2 separate regions of the Homo sapiens genome follow, and region 1 is linked to region 2. The links come from fine-mapping of genetic effects on gene expression. A gene starts in region 2. The other region holds a variant in brackets. All regions are shown on one strand. Distances are from middle to middle.

Region 1 (11,659 bases), 31 kb after region 2:
ACTTTTGATCTACCTTTATAATTCTATTTAAAGGGGGCTTCTTGTAGGCAGCATATAGTTGGGTAGTGTTATTTATTTATTTATTTATTTATTTATTTATTTATTTATTGAGACAGAGTTTTGCTCTTGTTGCCCAAGCTGGAGTGCAGTGGTGCAATCCTGGCTTACCACAACCTCCACCTCCTGGGTTGCAGTGATTCTCCTGCCTCAGCCTCCCAAGTAGCTGGGATTACAGGCACGCGCACCATGCCTGGCTGATTTTTTGTATTTTTAGTAGAAACGGATTTTCACCATGTTAGCCAGGCTCGTCTTGAACTCCTGACCTCAGGTGATCCACCTGCTTTGGCCTCCCAAAGTGCTGGGATTACAGGCGTGAGCCACTGCACCCGGCTGAGTCATGTTATTTTTAATCTTTTCTCACAATACAGGGTTTTTGTTGGTAAATTTAATTATTTTAATATAAATTTTAGTATAATTATTTACATTAAATGTAACTGTTGCACTGGGGTATTTATAATGTGTAAATATAATTATTGGTATTAATATAATTATATTACTCATAATAATATTAATATCTTTGGATTTAGATTACCAGTTTAGTATATGTTTTTCTGTTTCTCCCTCTTTGATTTCCCCTTTTTTGCTTTTTTTTTTTTTTTAATTCTTATTTTTTTTTAGTATTTGTTGATCATTCTTGGGTGTTTCTTGGAGAGGGGGATTTGGCAGGGTCATAGGACAATAGTTGAGGGAAGGTCAGCAGATAAACATGTGAACAAGGTCTCTGGTTTTCCTAGACAGAGGACCCTGCGGCCTTCTGCAGTGTTTGTGTCCCTGGGTACTTGAGATTAGGGAGTGGTGATGACTCTTAACGAGCATGCTGCCTTCAAGCATCTGTTTAACAAAGCACATCTTGCACCACCCTTAATCCATTTAACCCTGAGTGGTAATAGCACATGTTTCAGAGAGCAGGGGGTTGGGGGTAAGGTTATAGATTAACAGCATCCCAAGGCAGAAGAATTTTTCTTAGTACAGAACAAAATGGAGTCTCCCATGTCTACTTCTTTCTACACAGACACAGTAACAATCTGATCTCTCTTTCTTTTCCCCACATTTCCCCCTTTTCTATTCGACAAAACTGCCATCGTCATCATGGCCCGTTCTCAATGAGCTGTTGGGTACACCTCCCAGACGGGGTGGCAGCTGGGCAGAGGGGCTCCTCACTTCCCAGATGGGGCAGCCGGGCAGAGGCGCCCCCCACCTCCCAGACGGGGCAGTGGCCGGGCGGAGGCGCCCCCCACCTCCCTCCCGGATGGGGCGGCTGGCCGGGCGGGGGCTGACCCCCCACCTCCCTCCCGGACGGGGCGGCTGGCCGGGCGGGGGCTGACCCCCCACCTCCCTCCCAGATGGGGCGGCTGGCCGGGCGGGGGCTGCCCCCCACCTCCCTCCCGGACGGGGCGGCTGCCGGGCTGAGGGGCTCCTCACTTCGCAGACCGGGCGGCTGCCGGGCGGAGGGGCTCCTCACTTCTCAGACGGGGCGGCCGGGCAGAGACGCTCCTCACCTCCCAGATGGGGTGGCGGTCGGGCAGAGACACTCCTCAGTTCCCAGACGGGGTCGCGGCCGGGCAGAGGCGCTCCTCCCATCCCAGACGGGGCGGCGGGGCAGAGGTGGTCCCCACATCTCAGACGATGGGCTGCCGGGCAGAGACACTCCTCACTTCCTAGACGGGATGGCAGCCGGGAAGAGGTGCTCCTCACTTCCCAGACGGGGCGGCCGGTCAGAGGGGCTCCTCACATCCCAGACGATGGGCGGCTAGGCAGAGACGCTCCTCACTTCCCGGACGGGGTGGCGGCCGGGCAGAGGCTGCAATCTCGGCACTTTGGGAGGCCAAGGCAGGCGGCTGGGAAGTGGAGGTTGTAGGGAGCTGAGATCACGCCACTGCACTCCAGCCTGGGCAACATTGAGCATTGAGTGAGCGAGACTCCGTCTGCAATCCTGGCACCTCGGGAGGCCGAGGCAGGCAGATCACTCGCGGTCAGGAGCTGGAGACCAGCCCGGCCAACACAGCGAAACCCCGTCTCCACCAAAAAATGCAAAAACCAGTCAGGTGTGGCGGCGTGCGCCTGCAATCCCAGGCACTCTGCAGGCTGAGGCAGGAGAATCAGGCAGGGAGGTTGCAGTGAGCCGAGATGGCGGCAGTACAGTCCAGCCTCGGCTTTCACAACTTTGGTGGCATCAGAGGGAGACCGGGGAGAGGGAGAGGGAGACGAGGGAGAGCCCCTTTTTTGCTTTCTTTTGGATTATTTGAATTTTTCCTTAAATTTATTTATCTTACTTATTTATTTATTTTTTTGAGTGATTCTCCTGCCACAGCTCCCAAGTAGCTGGGACTGCAGGCATGTGCCACTACACCCAGCTAATTTTTTTGTATTTTTAGTAGAGACAGGGTTTCACCATATTGGCCAGGCTGGTCTTGAACTCTTGACCTCAAGTGATCCACCTGCCTCGGCCTCCCAAAGTGCTGGGATTACAGGCGTGAGCCACCATGCCCTGCCTTTTTCTAGAATTTATATATTGAGTTCTTGATTGTATCTTTTTATGTAGGCTTTTTAGTGGCTTCTCTAGGAATTACAATATACATACTTTTCACAGTGTACTCACATTTAATATTTTGTAACTTCAAGTGGAATGTAGAAAACTTAACCACCATAAAAATAGAACTAGGGATGAGGTTAAAAAAGAGAGAGAAAAGAAATGTAATAAAGATTTAATAACACCGTTTTTTTTTTTTTTTCTCTTTTTTTTTTGAGACAGAGTCTCTCTTTCTGTTACCAGGCTGGAGTGCAGTGGCGTGATCTTGGCTCACTGCAACCTCCGCCTCCTGGGTTCAAGTGTTTCTCCTGCCTCAGCCTACTGAGTAGCTGGGATTACAGGTGCGCGCCACCATGCCCAGCTAATTTTTGTATTTTTAGTAGAGACGGTTTCACTGTGTTGGCCAGGATGGTCTCGATTTCTTGACCTTGTGATTCGCTCTCCTCAGCCTCCCAAAGTGCTGGGATTACAGGCGTGAGCCACCGCGCCCGGCTAAGTCTTTAAATATTTTTTTGACATTGCACTTTTTCTCTTTTCCTTCTAGGATTTTAGTAACCCAAATGTTAGTTTTGTTATTGTTTGGCAGGTTCCTGAGGCTTTCCTTACTTCTTTAAATTTTTTTTTCCTGTTGTTCAGCTTCGAAAATTTCTATTCATCTGTCTTCAAATTCACTGGTTCTTTCCCGTTATTTCCATTCTGTTATTGAGTCTTTGTAGTGAATTTTAAATTTTGTTTATTATGTTTTTTAGTTCTAAAATTTTCTTTTTTTGTGTATGTCTTATACTTTGCTCCTGAAACTCTTATTTGTTTCAGGAGTGATCTTATTTCTTAGAGCATGGTTTTAGTAGCTACTTAAAATTTGTTTTATCATCCCAGCATATGTGTCCTCTTGATTGTCTTTTCTCTTGTGAGATAATGGGATTTTCTGGTTCTTTATATGACAATTAATTTTGGATTGTATCTTGGACAGTTTGACTTACGTTACATGATTCTGAATCTTGTTTAAATCCTGTGGAAAATATTGAAGTTTTTGCTTTAACAAGCAGTTGACCTAGTTAGGTTCAGTCCACAAATTCTAAGCAGCATTCTGTCGGCTCTGGTTCCATCATCAGTTCAGTTTTGTATCTTATCTGCTTATGTGCCTTTCTGTGTCCAGTCTGGGACCTGGCCAATGGTCAGGTCCCAAAGCCTTTGTACACTTTTAGAAGCAGGGCCATGCACACCCAGCTCACGAGTGGCCCCGGGAGTGCACATACAACTCGACGTTTTCATGGGCTCCTTCTTTTCTGTGATGTCCCTGACACGTTCTGCCTTCTAAGAACCTCCCTTTATCCCTTTCCTGTTGTCTGGCTAGAAAGTCAGGGCTTTAGATTCCCTATACTTCAGCACACTTCCTGTAGCTATGTCAACCTCTGTGGCCACGACTTCTTCTTCTTGGGACTGCAGTTTCTCTTGTCAGAAAGTAGGATTCTTGGAGCTGCTGTCATTGCTGCTGTGGCTGCTCTGATGCTGCCTGGGAGTCGAAGGAGAGAAAGGAACAAAACAAAACAACCCAGGGGATTTCCTCCACTCTCTTTGATCCGTGAGAGCCCCCTTTCCTGTTCCTCAGACCAGAAATAGAGGGCCTGTCTTGGAACTTCTTCTTTGTGCATCTGGTGTGCAGTTTCAGCTTTTGAGTCCAGGCCAGGAGGTGCTGGACAAACTTGTCAGGAGTACGGAGGTACTGCAAGTTCTGATTACTTTTCTCAGTCCACCTGCTTCCAAGTCCTTGGATGCATTTGTCCATTGTTTTGAGTTGCATTCCATGGGAGAGACAGAAGAGTGTGCTTATTTCATCTTGACATACTTATTAGGATTTCATATCAAATCAACGGATGATATTCTCTATATTAATTTGCTGTTTTCCCTTTAGCAAGCACATTAGGAAAATAACACTTTAACACCCGCCTTTGGTGGTTTCTGTCATAATTATTAATACTTGACTTTTTTTTTTTTTTTGAGACGGAGTCTCACTCTGTCCTTTGAGGCATTGTCCCCATAAACTTTTGGTAAAGCATCAATAATTTTATCTTTCATCCACACAAGCTTCACCATAAATTTGATGTTTATTCTTCCATTTTAGCAGAATTCATGTTGCTCCAATAGGGGCTGTCTTCAAACTGATGTTTTCTCCTTCTTAGTGCCTCAGAGTAGATCCTGTTCAGATACGTTATAACAGGTTAATATGAGTTTATTTTGGTGTAAAAGTACTTTGAAATTCATGCATAGTTTTTTCATCATATGCATTTTCCATAGCTTTGAACACCCCCATGTAACTCTCC[T/C]CTTCCACAAACCAAACAATGAAAAAGCACCTTTGTGATGGAAGTTTATTTTGCAATAGGAACTCACAGTGATCTAAGCCCTGCTATTCATGAATATAATTCATTACTGGAGTCCAAGTTGCTTTTTGGTTTTTGAAGTTCTCTTCTTCCCTTGCAGGTATAGAACAAGATGCAGTGAATACTTTTACCAAATATATATCTCCAGATGCTGCTAAACCAATACCAATTACAGAAGCAATGAGAAATGACATCATAGGTAAGCAGTGCTTGAAACTATGGCAAAAAAAAAATGACAAAAAATGCACAGAACTGACAATTTTCGTTATTGACTAAGATAATTTTTTCTTAACATGGAATTTAGCAGTTCCCTTCCTAATTTGTTTTCTGAGTATTTTTTATATCGGATTATAGCTCACTTTAAAAGTTTCTCGGCTGCATTCGGTGCGAGGGTCTTTGCCTGGGCCAGATGGGCTGCAGTGTAGCGGGTGCTCAGGCCTGCCCGCTGCTGAGCAGCCGGGCCGGCGGGCGGCTACGCTAACCGGCACAGACCACCGGATGGACTGGCCGGCAGCCCCGCACCAGTGCACGAAGTGGGCGGGACAGAAACTTCTGGGGTTGGAAGTCCAGTGAGGCTAAAAGCCGGTACCAAAGTCTCTAGGCATCAGGGCTGCAGCCCAAGAGTCTCACGACCAGTGGGCAACTGGATGGCCAGACAGGTGTCTCAGTGGTGGCCTCTCCGTCTCAGGGCTTCATCCCACTTCTCAGTGGGCCTGACGTCCCTGGGCACCCTGGATGTCTACCTGCATTAGCCAGAGCCATCACATGGCCTGTGACTTGCCTTTTTTTGCCAGTTGATTGTGCCACACACAGTGTCATTTCTGTGTCATTTGGCACAGCTGGAGGTGCAAGGAGGAGGGCAGCCTCATGTCCAGTCCCAGTTTCACGTAACTTTATTCTTCTGAATAAAGACAATTTGCTAACCTTAAAAAAAAAAAAAAAAAAAAAGTTTTTCTTATATGTTGGACCCAAATTCTTAGGCTTTAACCTGAATAACAATGACAGCAAGATCAATAAATAGTACACATTTATTAAACACTCACTGTGTCCCAGACAATATTCCAAGCACTTTTTATGGATAGACTCATTTTAACTTCTAAAGAACTTTGTGGGATAAATACAGTTATTTTATAGATGAAGAAACTGAAGCACAGAGAAGTTAAGTGCTTTGTCCAGGGTAACAGCTCAGATATGGCAGAGTCAGGATTTGAAACTAGACCCTCACATACCTTAACTGCTGTGCTGTGGCAGTGTTTTTCATACTGTAGGTTGGGACCAGCCTTCTCTTATGCCCTCACCCCCTGCCAAAAAAAAAAAAAAAAAAAAAAAATATATATATATATATATATATATATATATATATATATAATATATATATATATAAAATATATATATATATAAAATATATGTATTAGTATATATGCATATATAGTATATATTATATATTAGTATATATACTAATATATAATATACATATTAGTGTGTGTATATATATATATACTAGAATAAAAAAATCAAAGTATCTCAGAGTAGTAAGGACAAACATTTCAGAAAAATGTTTTCATTATATATACATGTATGTATGTGTATGCTGATTCAACAAATATATTTCTTATAGGTTATAGCAAAATAGTTTGAAAGCTTTTACTGTGTTTTATCAGGAAGACCTTAGGTGAACGTATATTCACAGATAAAAGAGGTTATTTATTCATTCAATAAATATTACATTCTCATAAGTCCTAATATTATGTATTTTTATTCTTCAAAAAAGTTAGTATTTGTGATTTATGAAATAAGACATGTTCTTGCACTTTTAGCAGATCTGTCCCGATGTTGGGCTTCTTTAATCCTTAGTGTGGGTGCTTTGCACTCACTCACTGCTGGGGACAGCAAGACCCCTGTTAGTCTCAGCTGTGTTTCTTAAATTGGCCCACTGTACCTTCCAGTTAGCTATTCTGGGGTCCATGTCATGTTGGCTCCATTTTCCTTTTCTTTCTCCCACACAGATACCTATAACGGCTATAACATAGGCCTGGTGGCTGTTGGTGGCTTATCCCTATCTGCTTGTATTTAAGGGGTACTGTTTCACTGAGTTTTGCTGACAGATGTTGTCATGAGATTTGAGGTTTTCTGTGTTGTTGCTCTATTTTTATGTGGGAATTTGCTACTATCATCATCCCTAGACCAGCTTTTCCTAGTAATACAACAGGGATGTTCTGACTGATTAGAGTTTGCCTGTTTGAAGAATTGGTTGGCTAGTGATTTTTTTTTGAGGGGAGTCTGTACCAGTTAATAGCCTGACTGGCGTGTGGATAAAAAGGAAGCAGTTTCAAGTCAAATAAAACACTTAAAATGAAACCACACTGCAACTCTCTTTCTTTTACTTAAGCTTAATCAAATTAATGATGATGTAATCCCATGAAGGAAAAGTCTTCTGAAGGATCAAGTTGATAACATTTTGTGATCAAAGAATTTGAGAAAACCTCTATCCCAGTGTCTATCATTATATATTTTAGGATGTTAATTACCTGTGTGGCTTTAGGCAAGTCATTTTTCCTCCTTGAGCCCCATTCTTAATCCTGTCCAAATTATTTGTCTCCTCTTGCAGTTGGACTATTTTAATATAGCTGTCCTTCAAGTGAGTTTTGTTCAAAGGAGCCTTCACTTTAGCTCTTACTGTGTACCCACTTTGCATAGTCTTGTTTTAAATGTAATCCTTGGATTTTTGGTGTTGCTAACTAATTACTGTTTTTATGTGAGGATTTAGAGTGATCCAGAATCTATACTTGCACTACCTCCTTCATCTTCCACAAATGTTTGAAGTGGTAGAATTTTTAAAAACTTTGAAGGTACAGCTGACAGAATTTGCTGATGGTTTGGAAGTGAGTGGTATGAGAGGGAAAAAAAGGAATAAAGCATGACTGCATTTTTTGTTTGTTTGTTTGTTTGTTTTTGAGACGGAGTCTCACTCTCGCCAGGCTGGAGTGCAGTGGCGTGATCTTGGCTCACGGCAACCTCCGCCTCCTGGGTTCAAGCGATTCCCCTGCCTCAGCCTCCCAAGTAGCTGGGACTACAGGCGCTCGCCACCACGCCTGGCTAATTTTTTTTTTTGTATTTTAGTAGAAACGGGGTTTCACCGTGTTGGCCAGGATGGTCTCCATCTCCTGACCTCATGATCTACTCACCTTGGCCTCCCAAAGTGCTGAGGTTACAGGCATATATATAAGCATATAAAGTGTGTTATAGCATACAAACAGGTATATATATAAACATGCAGTCCACACAGCTGATAGGAATGAGGCAGTAGTGAAGGAGAAGTTGATGTAGGAGAGGGGACAGTTGTTACAGGAAAGAAGTCTGGAGGCAGAAGGGATGAATTCCAGTGCTCACATAGAAGATTGCTTAGATGGGAGCAAGGACAATTTATCTAGAGTCACAGGAAAGAATGCAGTACACGGGTAGAGATGCAGGTGAGTTGAAAGATGTGAGAGATGATGGAAATAATTTTCTGATTGCTTCTATATTCTCAAGGAAGCAGGAAGCAAAGTCCTCAGCAAAGAGAATAGAAGAGGTGTTAAATATTTGAGAAAGGAGATGTACTGTAGAAAAAAAAAAAACTCAGTTTCTCCTTCTGAACTCTCACAAAACAGAACCCTTCCATGACTCTAGTTGTGTGGGGTTTTTTCCCTGTCAGCTACCAATTCTGCAGATGATTGTTCAGTGAACACCAACTGGGTGTCCTCTAAGTCAGTTCAGTTCTCACACTGTTTACCTGGAGATAGCATCAGATCCCACAGATTGAGGACTCTGTCCCACAAGACTGCCTCCACTTCAGATGCCAGTCTCAAGTACAAGTTGTGGCCTGTGCTTCTGACTGACCTTCTATAAATTGGAGTTCCCACAGTCCCCTCCTTGGGTTCAATAAATTTGCTAGAGCAGCTCTCAGAACTCAGGGAAATGCTTTACATATATTTACCCATTTATTATAAAGGATATTACAAAGGATACAGATTGAACAGGCAGATGGAAGAGATGCATGGGCAAGGTATGGGAGAGGGGCACAGAGCTTCCATGCACTCTCCAGGTCATGCCACCCTCCAAGAACCTCTACAGATTTAGCTATTCAGAAGCCCCCCTCCCCATTCTGTCCTTTTGGGTTTTTTGTGGAGACTTCATTATATAGGCATGATTGATCATTGGCTATTGGTGATCAGCTCAACCTTCAGCCCCCTCATCCCGGGAGGTTGGTGGGTAGGGCTGAAAGTCCCAAACGTGTAATTCTGCCTTGGTCTTTCTGGTGATTAGCCCTCATCCTAAAGCTCTTTAGAGGCCACAGCCACAAGTCATCTCATTAGCCTTCAAAAGAATCCAGAGATTCCATGAATTTTAGGCGCTGTATGCTAAGAAACTGGCTAAAGGCCAGTTGCAATGTCTCAGGCCTGTAATCCCAGCACTTTGGGAGGCTGAGGCAGGAGGATCGTTTCAGGCCATGAGATCAAAACCAGCCTGGTCAACATAGTGAGACCCCCTTACAAAAAATTTAAAAATTGGCCAGGCGTAATAGCTCTTGTCTGTAGTCTCAGCTACTCAGAAGGCTGAGGATCACTGAGCCCTGGAGTTGAAGGCAGCAGTGAGCCATGATCGTGCCACTGACTCCGGCTTGGGTGACAAAGTGAGACCTTGTCTCAGAAGAAAAAGGAAAAAAAAAAAACTGGGCAAAGACTAAATAACATATTTCACAGTATCACAGATTTGTATTGTCTAGGAAAGTGAATGTAAACAGACCAGGACACTAGTATGATCCCTTGGTTTCATGAAGGTCCCACTAAAGTCATGAACACAAAGTGAGACTAGGCATCATGTTATATGGTTTTTCCAGCCATGTTTAACAGCTAGCTAAATAGCTAATTGTTTCGCTGCAGTTTATTTTAGCAGTTCCTTATTTTAGCACATTTCATGTTTTAAAATTTCTACCAATAACATTTTAATAAACTTTTTTACAGATAACTTCACAAATCCATAATTTTTTAAGTTACAATCCCAGAAATAGAATTGCTCATTGAAAGGGTATGTTCATTTTTAAAGTTATGCTAGAAACTGCCAAATTGCCTTCAGAAAAAGGTGTTTGTATCCCCACTAACACTAGTGTTAGTTTTCTTGTGCCCTTGCTCAAGTATACATATTATTAAAAACAATGTTGGGCCAGTTTACTAGATAAAAGGTGTAGTGCCTCCTTATTCTAATCTATTTGATTACTAGTGAGTATGTATGTCTTTTCACGTTGGTCATTTTATGTTTGTTCCTTTGTGGATTGTCATGTCCTTTGCTCATTTTTCTTTTGGAACATTTCTTAGTAGTTTATAAGAGCTCTTGGTATTTTAATGATAGTAACCTTTTAACTGTCATGCATGCTGCAAATCTTTTTTCTGTTTGTTTGCCTTTGTATTTTGTTTTTGGAGGGTTTCTATGTATAGGAATTAAATTTTATGTTGTTAAATCTTTTGATTTCTGCTTTTGCATATGTACTTCAAAAGACTTTCTATTTTAAGATCAAGTGTTACCTGTATTTTCTTTTAGTTCTATTTAAAACCTCTTAATTTATATGCCTGTGCTGTTAACTCCCAAGTTGATTCACAAGTGTGTATACATAGTTTGAATTTAGTGGCAATTTAATTATTTACAACTTCTTTTGCAGCAAGGATTTGTGGAGAAGATGGACAGGTGGATCCCAACTGTTTCGTTTTGGCACAGTCCATAGTCTTTAGTGCAATGGAGCAAGAGTAAGTTAGTTCATATTTTCACATTGTGCATCCTAGGGAATTTGGGTTCATTGTTAGGAATGGGCTTCACTCAGCTAAAAACAAAGTATTTTTGAGAATTTAAATATTTTGGATATTTACAAGATCATATAAAGCATACTCTATCTTGGTTAACAGTTTCTTTTAAATATAAATTATGTGAACTCTTAAAATTTTCATTTTCATTTTCAATGTTAATATTTCCTAAGTTAAAATAATTTGTTTTTAGTTCTGAAATAATTTGGGGAGTGATTGAGTCTGTAGTGATTATGACTATTAGAATTGGTTTATTTATTTAAATAATGCATGTCTTCAGATGGCTCTCCTAATTTGTTAGTTAGGCTTTAAGCTAAATGGATGCTATATAACTAAATCCACATAGATTTGTTGAAATGGCTCCAGAGGTTTTTTAGATTTATTACTGCTATGTGCCCTTAAAAAAAATCTATTCATTCTTTCACTTAACATTTATCAGAAGAGTGCTCTGTGTAAGACGTGGTTAGGCATAGTGCCAGTCTTGAAGGAAGTTACAGCCTAATAAAAGACATAGGGCATGTTGTTTGGTTACTGTAATATGAAGTGGCATGTGTTAAATGTCAGGGGAGAACTACAAAGTCATAAAAAGGTGGGAGAGATTACATACAGGTAAAGGAATCAGGAATGACACCATGGGGAGTAAGGTAGTGTTGACCTAGGCCTTTAAGATACAATAGGGACAGTATGGAAAGAGTATATTTTTCCCACTTAAACTCTTTCCTTGGTCGTTCCCTCAAATTTTCCCTTTTGTCCATGTGCAGGCACTTTAGTGAGTTTCTGCGAAGTCACCATTTCTGTAAATACCAGATTGAAGTGCTGACCAGTGGAACTGTTTACCTGGCTGACATTCTCTTCTG
Region 2 (11,659 bases):
TCTGCCTCCCTGGTTCAAGCGAATCTCCTGCCTCAGCCTCCCACATAGCTGGGATTACAGGCACACACCACCATGCCCAGCTAATTTTTATATTTTTTTAGTAGAGACGGGTTTTCGCCATGTTGGCCAGGCTGGTCTTGAACTCCTGGCCTCAAATGATCTGACCACCTCAGCCTCCCAAAGTGCTAGGATTACAGGCATGAGCCACCACACCTGGCCAAAATAGAATATTCTTTAGTGAGGTCTGCTGGTGACAATTTTTTTCTTTTTTTTGAGACTGAGTCTCGCTGTTGTCAGCTTGGGCTGGAGTGCAATAGCACGATCTCAGCTCACTGCAACCTCCACCTCCCGGATTCCAGCAATTCTCCTGCCTCAGCCTCCCAAGTAGCTGAGAGATTACAGGCACCCACCACCACACGCGGCTAATTTTTGTATTTTTAGTAGAAATGGGGGTTCACCGTGTTGGCCAGGCTGGTCTCGAACTCCTGACCTCAGGTGATCCACCCACCTTGGCCTCCCAAAGTGCTGGGATTACAAGCATGAGCCACCACGCACAGCCAATTTTTTCCGTTTTTGTCTGAAATCTTATTTTGTGTCATCTTTGAAATATATTTTTGATGGATATAAAATTGTTGGTTGATAGTTATTATCATTATTATTATTATTTTGAGACAGGGTCTCACTCTGTTGCCTATGCTGGGGTGTAGTAATGTGATCTCGGTTCACTGCAGACTTGACCTCCTAGGGCTCAGGTGATCTTCCCACCTCAGCCTCCCTAGTAGCTGGGACTACAGATGCATGCCACCATACCCAACTAATTTTTCTATTTTTTGTAGAGATGAGGCTTTGCCACATTTCCCAGGCTGGTCTCTAACTCCTGAGCTCTAGCAATCCACCCACCTTGGCCTTACAAAGTGCTGGGCCATGACTAGCCAGCAGTTACTTTTTATAGCATATTGAATATTTAATATGAATCTTCTGGCATCCACTGTAACTGTTTAAAAAATCAGCTGTTTACTTGGCACTCTTTTTTTTTTTTTTTTTTTTGAGACAGAGTCTTGCCCTGTCGCCCAGGCTGGAGTGCAGTGGCGTGATCTTGGCTCACTGCAAGCTCTGCCTCCCGGGTTCACGCCATTCTCCTGCCTCAGCCTCCGGAGTAGCTGGGACTAAAGGCGCCCGCCACCACGCCCGGCTGATTTTTTTGTATTTTTCGTAGAGTTGGGGTTTCACCGTGTTAGCCAGGATGGTCTCGATCTCCTGACCTCGTGATCTGTCCGCCTCGGCCTCCCAAAGTGCTGGGATTATAGGCGTGAGCCACCGCGCCCAGCCTCTTTTTTTTTTTTTTTTAGACGGAGTCTTACTCTGTCATCTAGGCTGGTGTACAGTGGCGTGATCTCAGCTCAGTGCAACCTCCACCTCCTGCCTCAGCCTGCCAAATAGCTGGGATTACAGGTGCGTACCATCACGCCCGGCTAATTTTTGTATTTTCAGTAGAGATGGGGTTTCACCATGTTAGACAGGCTGGTCTCGAACTCCTGGCCTCAAGTGATCTGCCTGCCCCAGCCTCCCAAAGATTACAGGCATGAGCCACCGCACCCGGCCAAGTAGCACTCCTTTGAAGGTAATCTGCTTCCCCTACCCCTAGCAATTTTTAACAATTTTTCTTCATTTTTATTTCCTGAAGTTTTGTTATTAATAATCTGTGTGCAGATTTCTTTGTATTTCTTTTGTTTGCAGTTCATAGTGATTCTTGAATTAGTGTGTTGGTTTCTGTTATCACCACAGGAAAATTGTCAGCCGTTAGCTTTTCAAATATTTCCTTGCTAAATTCTCTCTTCTCCCCTTTCGGTACAATTGATTTGATTAAAACTAAAACCAGGGCCGGGTGCAGTGACTCATGCCTGTAATCCCAACACTTTGAGAGGCTGAGGCAGGTGGATCACCTAAGCTCAGGAGTTCAAGACCAGCCTGGCCAATATGGTGAAACCCCGTCTCTACTAAAAATACAAAAATTACCAGGCATGGTGGCACACATTTGTAGTCAGGAGGCTGAGGCAGGAGAATTGCTTGAATCCAGGAGGTGGAGGTTGCAGTGAGCTGAGATCCCACCACTGCAGTCTGGCCTGGGCGACAGAGTGAGATGAGAATCTGTCTCGAAAAAAAAAGTTATGAATGTTTGATAAACTATATTTGTTAGAATGTTTGTTGTAGAATACTATTCATTGATTTTTAAACAATGTTAGATTAAACCATTCACTGGATTTGTGATAATTAACTTACTGATTTTACCTCACTGATTTGTTGTAATTAATACAACTGGTATAAAAAGACTGTGACGAGGCCGGGCATGGTGGCTCCCGCCTATAATCCCAGCACTTTGGGAGGCTGAGGCAGGCGGATCACCTGAGGTCAGGAGTTCAAGACCAGCCTGACCAACATGGTGAAACCCCATCTTTACTAAAAATACAAAATTAGCCGGTCGTGGTGGTGCATGCCTGTAATCCCAGCTCTTCGGGAGGCTGTGGCAGGAGAATCACTTGAACCCGGGAGGTGGAGGTTGCAGTGAGCCGATATCGCGCCATTGCACTCCAGCCTGGGCAACAAGAGCGAAACTCCGTCTAAAAAAAAAAAAGAAAAAAAACACATAAAACAAAACAACACTGTGACGGTTCCCAAAAATTAGGAGCATAATTAAAGGAACTCCTGATAAAAATTAATTTTATCTTACATGTAAACTAAAATGACTTTATGAAGTTAATTCAGAAATACAATGCAGGGTATTAGTTTGCCACAGCTGCGTATTCAGCCTAATGTAATATTCTTGTTATTTTTAAATTCTTCTTTTAACTTTACTCATATGTGGATCATCAAATTTCAAAAGATTAAATGACAATACTCTTAGCAGCAAGCTTCCCTAAGCATATAAACATTTTAATGGGTGATGATTCAGAAGGTACCCGAAGAATATGTACTGCCAGATATCATTCACCCCCATATACCTGCCCGACAGACATCCCATTTTGGGACCCTGGATAAATGTGTGGGTGGAGAGAAAGATAGGAGAAAGTGGTATAAGCAAATGGCTTTGGAGTCTGATTGACAGCGATTGAAATCCTGTCTCTACCTCTTAACAGCCTCATGATCCTACATAAGTTACCCCGATCCTCAGGGCCACATCTGTAAATTGGGGGTTGCGATGGCAGCCATCTCACAGGGTCTCTTTTCGGGGAAGGGCAGGAATTATGGATTAAGTGAGCTAGTAATTGTAAAGCACTTAATACAAGGAGGGCGCATAATAAGTACTTCATAAATAATGACGGCCATTATCATGACTGAGGTGTATGCAGCTGTCGGGGATTACGGCGACTTCAGAATTTCTGGTGGGCAGGGCTCAAAGGCAGCAAATCACACTGGAAGTCGAGGTGAGGCACTGCTTCTGCACAGACTGCTTAGCTGGAGAGAATGAGGAAGGCTTAGAGGAGATTTAGAGGAACTTAGAGTCCTCCGCCTCCAACTCTGTGGGATCTGCTCCCGTGCCAGAGACATTCAGGGGATTTCTCGCACTCTCCCCTCCCCTACGTCCCTCCCGCCCCATCCAACTAACCACACAACACATACAAAATAGCCCCTGCGAGGTTCTGCACGCTGGAAGGGAACAGGAGAAGGGCGCTGCGCTTTCTTGCTGATGCCCTGTACTTGGGCCCCTGGTAGACACAGCCACTTGTCCCCTCAGCCTGCAGAGAAATCCCACGTAGACCGCGCCCGGGTCCTTGGCTTCAGCCAATCTCCCTTTGGTGGGGGTGGGATGCACGATCCAAGGTTTTATTGGCTACAGACAGCGGGGTGTGGTCCGCCAAGAACACAGATTGGCTCCCGAGGGCATCTCGGATCCCTGGTGGGGCGCCGCTCAGCCTCCCGGTGCAGGCCCGGCCGAGGCCAGGAGGAAGCGGCCAGACCGCGTCCATTCGGCGCCAGCTCACTCCGGACGTCCGGAGCCTCTGCCAGCGCTGCTTCCGTCCAGTGCGCCTGGACGCGCTGTCCTTAACTGGAGAAAGGCTTCACCTTGAAATCCAGGCTTCATCCCTAGTTAGCGTGTGACCTTGAGCAGTTGACTTTATTTTTCAGTGCCTAGTTTTCCAGATACCAGGACTGACTCCAAGGACTATTACTCATCTGGAGGGTTTAGCACAGTACCGTCGCATAGTAAATTTCCATGTCAGTTTTGGTTACCTTTCATGCACTTGCAAACATGCCATGCTCTGAAACGAAATAGGCACATCTTTTTTTTTTTTTTTTTTAAGGAGTCTTCCTCTCGCCCAGGCTGGAGTGCAGTGGCGCGATCTTGGCTCACTGCAACCTCCACCTCCCGTGTTCGAGATTCTCCTGCCTCAGCCTCCTGATTAGCTGGGACTACAGGCATGCCACGACGCCCAGTTAATTTTTGTATTTTTAGTAGAGACGGGGTTTCGCCATCTTGGCCAGGCTGGTCTAACTCCTGACCTCAGGTGATCTGACTGCCTCAGCCTCTCAAAGTGTTGGGATTACAGGCATAAGCCACTGCATCTGGCCAGAAATGAAATAAGTAAATCTTTTAACCTGCTCTAACAATATAGTGAAAAGACCATATTATTATTAGAGCAGGTTAAGGGATTTGCCTATTTCGGGTTCTAGTTATAGTCTTAAACTTGGACATTCTTGTAGAAAGTAAAAAGTTTCCTCTTCAAAGTTCCCCTTCTTGTTAAAGAATACATCATAAGTGTTAGAAGTAATAGTTTATTTTAAAGACTAACTTTCTTCAAGCCTCCTTGCTTTGTGCTAATAACTCTTTGTTAAGCCCTATCCTATGTAACTGTTGGACATGCTCACAGGCACGTTCCAGTTCACAGCCTATGCCCCTTCCTTATTTGGAAATGTTATTGCTTCCTTAAACCTTTCGGTAAGCAACTTCCTCTCCTTCTTCGTTCTTCCTTGCACTTACCTATTTAGAAAGTTTTAGGCTATTAGCAAATCGGCTATCAGTTTAAGAGTGTGAGGTCCCGCTCCAGCCAATGGATGCAGGACATAGCAGTGAGGACGACCCAAATGCGTAAGGGATAAATATGTTTGCTTTTCCTTTGTTCAGGTGTGCTCTCGACATCGTTCCATCTGCGATTGAGCACCCTTTCTGCAGAAAGTAAAGATTGCCTTGCTGGAGATCTTTTGTCTCCGTGCTGACTTTTCTTCGTGGCACCGATTATCTATTTCTAACAATTTTGGTATTTCTAACATTCTGAACAATCTTGGGCTAGTTGTCTCTTCTGGGCCTGTTTCCCCATCCGTCACATGATAAACTTCATTGGTTTAAAAACCCCAGCGAACATTTATTGAGTTACTATTACCTTCCTGCCCTCCCCAACCCCAACCCCAGGGAGCAGTTACAACCTCAGCCGCTGAGCGCACTCGCCGGGTGTTAAGAAGCACCAAAGACAGGGAGGCTTGATTGATTTTGCTTTGGGAGTAGAGGGTCAGAAGATTCACAGGAAAATGGCATTTGAGCAAGGATGATTCACTGGAGCTAGCTTTTAAATACTGGCGAGGCTTTTATGTTGCAGTCCCTTACAAAGTTGAGCATTCGCAGGGACTGCACTCCGAAATAAGCCCGCTTCCCCTTTTCATTCGCTAATGATCCAGGGAGCTGCTGGTTCCGCATGCGGCAGGTTGTGCCTTTTCCTAATCAGGGTTCTGCATCGCCTCGAACCCGCAGGCCGTGGCGGGTTCTCCTGAGGAAGCAGGGACTGGGGTGCAGGGTGAAGCTGCTCGTGCCGGCCAGCGCCTGTGAGCAAAACTCAAACGGAGGAGCAGGAGGGGTCGAGCTGGAGCGTGGCAGGGTTGACCCTGCCTTTTAGAAGGGCACAATTTGAAGGGTACCCAGGGGCCGGAAGCCGGGGACCTAAGGCCCGCCCCGTTCCAGCTGCTGGGAGGGCTCCCGCCCCAGGGAGTTAGTTTTGCAGAGACTGGGTCTGCAGCGCTCCACCGGGGGCCGGCGACAGACGCCACAAAACAGCTGCAGGAACGGTGGCTCGCTCCAGGCACCCAGGGCCCGGGAAAGAGGCGCGGGTAGCACGCGCGGGTCACGTGGGCGATGCGGGCGTGCGCCCCTGCACCCGCGGGAGGGGGATGGGGAAAAGGGGCGGGGCCGGCGCTTGACCTCCCGTGAAGCCTAGCGCGGGGAAGGACCGGAACTCCGGGCGGGCGGCTTGTTGATAATATGGCGGCTGGAGCTGCCTGGGCATCCCGAGGAGGCGGTGGGGCCCACTCCCGGAAGAAGGGTCCCTTTTCGCGCTAGTGCAGCGGCCCCTCTGGACCCGGAAGTCCGGGCCGGTTGCTGAATGAGGGGAGCCGGGCCCTCCCCGCGCCAGTCCCCCCGCACCCTCCGTCCCGACCCGGGCCCCGCCATGTCCTTCTTCCGGCGGAAAGGTAGCTGAGGGGGCGCCGGCGGGGAGTCAGGCCGGGCCTCAGGGGCGGCGGTGGGGCAGGTGGGCCTGCGAGGGCTTTCCCCAAGGCGGCAGCAAGGCCTTCAGCGAGCCTCGACCTCGGCGCAGATGCCCCCTGAGTGCCTTGCTCTGCTCCGGGACTCTTCTGGGAGGGAGAAGGTGGCCTTCTTGCGCGAGGTCAGAGGAGTATTGTCGCGCTGGTTCAGAAGCGATTGCTAAAGCCCATAGAAGTTCCTGCCTGTTTGGTTAAGAACAGTTCTTAGGTGGGGGTTAGTTTTTTTGTGTTTCTTTGAGGACCGTGGATCAAGATCAAGGAAATCTCTTTAGAACCTTATTATGGAAGTCTGAAGTTTCCAAATGTTGAGGGTTTTATGTCTAAAAGCAACACGTGAAAAAATTGTTTTCTTCACCCAGTGCTGTCTTCCAATTTCCTCTTTGGGGGGAGGGGTAGTTACTGCTGTTACTAAAATAAAATTACTTATTGCTAAAGTTCCCCAACAGGAAGACCACTACTTTTGATGACTTTGGCAAGTTTGCTAACTACTGGAACCCTAACTTACAAACGAACTACTTACATTTTTGATTTCCAGTTGTATTACCTGCCCAATGTTTACGTAGAAACAGCTTAATTTTGATTCTGGGTAACGTTGTTGCACTTCATTAAAAATACATATCCGAAGTGAGCAAGTATGGGTCTGTGGACAGCAGTGATTTTTCCTGTCAATTCCTGTTGCTTCAGATAAAATGTACCAGACAGAGGCCGGGCGCGGTGGCTCACGCCTGTAATCCCAGCACTTTGGGAGGCTTGGCGGGTGGATCACCTGAGATCGGGAGTTCAAGACCAGCCTGACCAACATGGAGAAACCCCGTGTCTACTAAAAATACAAAATTAGCCAGGGTGGTGGCGCATGCCTGTAATGCCAGCTACTTGGGAGGCTGAAGCAGGAGAATCGCTTGAACCTGGGAGGCGGAGGTTGCGGTGAGCCGAGATAGCACCATTGCACTCCAGCCTGGGCAAAAAGAGCGAAACTCCGTCTCAAAAAAAAAGTACCAGACAGAAATGGGTTTTGTTTTCTTTTTTTGTTTTGAGACGGAGTTTCGCTCTTGTTGCCCAGGCTCGAGTGCAATGGCGCGATCTCAGTCTCGGCTCACTGCAACCTCTGTCTCCCAGGTTTAATCGATTCTCCTGCCTCAGCCTCCCAAGTAGCTGGGATTACCCATGCCCCACCATGCCCGGCTAATTTTTGTATTTTTAGTAGAAACGGGGCTTCACCATGTTAGGCTGGTCTTGAACCCCTGACCTCAAGTGGGCCTCCCACCTCGGCCTCCCAAAGTGCCAGGATTACAGGCATGAGCCACCGCGGCCAGCCAGAAATGGGTTTTGGAAAAAGCACTAAACAAAATCGAACTTGGTTTCATATGACAGCTCTGCTGCTAACTGTAACAGGGGCAGACCAGTTAACCTACTTTTCTGTCTTCTGTCAGCTGAGAATTAGATGATTCCCAAAGGCCCATTGAACTCTGAATGACTTTAAATACTTCTTCTTAAGTGGGTACACGGTTTTGGTAACTGATGCCAGGTGATGAATGCATGAAAGTGCTTAATGAATGAAACCGGTAAAATAGTAGGAGGAAGCTTTATTGGTAAGGCAGGGGTATACCTAATAGCTCTCTAATTTATTGGTATTGAAGTGGTTAACTTTTGTTTTTTTAAGGGGGGAAAACATTCTAAGAATAATGAGGCAAACTGCATATTGCACAAGAGACTGTTGTCTCTATTCAACAAATACCTTTTGAGTGTCCAGAGTCTGCCAGGTGCTGTGCTAGGCCCTCACGATTGAGTAGTGAACCAGAGAATGTCCCTGCACCCATGGAGCTTATTGTCTACTGGGGTAGACAGATAATAAATAAGCAAACAAATCTTCTCTCTTCTCCCTTTCGCTCCATGTAAGTGTGTGTGTATAGGTGTATACTTACAAGTTGAGTAAAGTGTTATGAAAGATTAAGAGGAGAAATGCATTTTGGTTAGATGTTAGAGGACTCAGCAGGTGACCTTGAAACTTAGAGCTGAAGGATCAGTAGGAGGTAACTAGAGAGGCCAGGGAATCGCATGTTCAAAGGCCAGGAGGCAAGAAAGAGCATGGTGCCCTTCAAGAGAGGAAAGAAGGCTACTGTGACTGGAGCATAGATGTAGGCAAGTGTTGGGTGATTGAGAGCTCTACGGGCCATGGTTAGGTTTTATTCCTAATGCCGAGATGCCAAACATGGTGGTTCATATCTGTAATCCCAGTATTTTAGGAGGCCGAGGCAGGAATATAGCTTGAACCCAGGAGTTCAAGACCAGCCTGAGCAACATGAGACCTGTACAAAACATTTAAAAAATTGCTGGGTATGATGGTGCACACCTGTGGTCCCAGCTACTCAGGAGGCTGAGGCAGAAGGATCACTTGAGCCTAGGAGGTGGAGGCTACAATGAGCCATATTTGAGTCACTACACTCCAGCCTGGATGACAAAGTGAGACCATGTGTCAAACAAAATACAGAAAGAATATTAATTTAAAATTTTGAAAGAGGAGTGATCTGAACTTATATCTTAAAAAGATCATTCTAGGGCATGGTGGCTCATGCCTGTAATCAAGGGCTTTGGGAGGCTGAGACAGGAGGATCACCTGAGGCCAGTTCGAGATCAACCTGTACAGCATAGAGAGACTCCATCTCTACAAAAAGAAAAAATAAATAGCTGGGTGTTGTGAGTTATTCAGGAGGCTGAAGCAGAAAGATCACTTGAGCCCAGGAGTTTGAGGCTGCAGTAAGCTATGATCCCACCACTGCAACACAGTGAGATCTTGTCTCAAAAAAAAAAAAAAATCATTCTAGGTGCTTTTTGGAGGCTGGATGTGGTAAGAGTAGAAGCTGGAGATGGTCCTGTTAGGGATTCGATTCAGACTTTAAATACCATCAATGCATTGAGTCCCAAATTTACATCACTACGTTGGATCCTTGCCCCTGAATCCAGACTGGTATATCCAACTTTAGGTTCAGTTTGTATCTCTACCTGACCAATATAGAGGTGTCCAGTCTTTTGGCTTCCCTAGGCCACATTGGAAGAAGAATTGTCTTGAGCCACACATAGAGTACACTAACGCTAACAATAGCAGATGAGCTAAAAAAAAATCGCAAAACTTATAATGTTTTAAGAAAGTTTACGAATTTGTGTTGGGCACATTCAGAGCCATCCTGGGCCGCGGGATGGACAAGCTTAATCCAGTAGATACCTTCAACTTACAATATCTAAAATTTTATGCCAGATTTAGTCATTTTAAACCTGCTCATCAGTTTTTCTCAAGAAGTAGTATTTTGGCTTTTTTTCTTTTCTTTTTTTTGAGATGGAGTTTCGCTCTTATCGTTCAAGCTGGAGTGCAGTGGCGGATCTTGGCTCACTGCAACCTCCGCCTCCTGGGTTCAAGTGATTCTCCTGCCTCAGCCTCGCAAGTAGCTGGAATTACAGGCATGCGCCACCATGACCAGCTAATTTTTGGAGACAGGGTTTCACCATGTTGGTCAGGCTGGTTTTGTACTCCTGACCTCAGGTGATCTGCCTGCCTCGGCCTCCCAAAGGCTGGGATTACAGGCATGAGCCACCGCTCCCGGCTGCATTTTTGGATTTTTAGTTGCTCAGCCCAAAACTTTAGTACATCTTTGAACCTCTTCTTTCCTCCTACTCTATATCTGATCCATCAGCAAATCTGTTAGGTCTACCTCACACATATCGAAATCCTACCACGTCTCACCATCTGTGACAATTAACACCCTGGTCTAGGCAGTCATCTCTGTTAAGATTGAGTGGTTAAGGATGTCCTCTAAGGAGATGACATTCAAATCTTAGCTTAAATGTCAAGAGGGAGCTGGTTTTATAAAGATTGAGGAGGCAGCATTATTTTGCCATAGGCTTCCATTTGGTTTCCATTCCATTCTTGATACTTATGGTATATATTCAAAACAAATGCACAGAAACAGACCCAGGTATATTGGGAATTTCGGATATAGAGTTCCTAGTTGGGAAAAGATAGACTGATCTGTAAATGATGCTAGTTATCCATCATCTGGCAAAAAATAATTTCCTGCCTCCTCTCATATATCTCAGATCAACAGACTTTTTCTGTTAAGGGCCAAATCATAAATATTTTAGGCTTTCCAGACCATATGGTTTCTGTCACACTCTCCTTTATCCTTGAAGCCATAGACAATATGTAAACAAATGGGCATGGCTGTGCTACGATAAAACTTTACTTACAAAAACTGGTAGTGGGCCAGTTTAGGCATGGCCAGCACTTTGGGAGGCTAAGGCAGATGGATCACTTGGGGTCAGGAGTTTGAGACCAGCCTGGCCAACATGGTGAAACCCTGTCTCTACTAAAAATACAAAAAATAGCTGGGCATGGTGGTGGGTGTCTATAATTCCAGCTACTCTGGAGGCTAAGACACAAGAATCACTTGAACCCAGGAGGCAGAGGTTGCAGTGAGCTGAGATAGCACCACTGCACTCCAGCCAGGGTGACGGAGTCTTAAAGCAAAACAAAACAAAAGGTAGTGGGTTGTATTTGGCCCATGGGCTGTAGTTTGCCAATCCCTGATGCAGAAACAAATTCCAGGTAAATAAGAGCCTGGAATGTTAAAAAAACAAAACTTGAAGTCATGTAGAAGAACAGGTAGGGGGAACAATCCTGATCTCAGGATAGGAAGGGATATTGCTTAAAATAAGACACAGGAAAATATAATCCATGTTGTGTAAATTTGACTACGTTAAAACTTAAAACTTTCGCCAAGCGCGGTGGCTCACGCCTGTAATACCAGTACTTTGGGAGGCCGAGGTGAGCAGATCACCAGGTCAGGAGATTGAGACCATCCTGGCTAACACGGTGAAACCCCGTCTCTACTAAAAATACAAAACATTAGCCGGGCGTGGTGGCGGGCGCCTGTAGTCCCAGCTACTTGGGAGGCTGAGGCAGGAGAATGGCCTGAACCCGGGAGGCGAAGCTTGCAGTGAGCTGAGATCGCGCCACTGCACTCCAGCCTGGGCGACAGAGTGAGATTCCGTCTCAAAAAAACAAAACAAAACAAAGCAAAAAACCTAAAACTTTCATACAATAAAGTATACCTAAGATACTTCTAGAAGAGAAGATTTA

The links. PIP is the estimated chance that this variant, and not a neighbour inherited with it, causes the effect.
Region 1: its variant is the best candidate, but not a certain one, in a credible set for the expression of AKAP10 in whole blood (INTERVAL, PIP 0.64).

Annotation. Positions count from the first base shown.
Region 1 is chr17:19,940,915-19,952,573 of GRCh38, reverse strand. It overlaps AKAP10 (A-kinase anchoring protein 10), which reads left to right. Exons shown (of 15, transcript NM_007202.4): 5 at 5,069-5,167; 6 at 10,664-10,748; 7 at 11,564-11,659. Among named protein-coding and RNA genes, the nearest start is that of AKAP10, 31 kb to the left of the region's middle. The variant T/C (reference allele first, on the strand shown) is at 4,912.
Region 2 is chr17:19,972,389-19,984,047 of GRCh38, reverse strand. AKAP10 (A-kinase anchoring protein 10) reads left to right here and starts at 6,220. Exons shown (of 15, transcript NM_007202.4): 1 at 6,220-6,456. The coding sequence starts at 6,369. RefSeq lists an enhancer at 5,137-5,850 and a silencer at 6,323-6,512.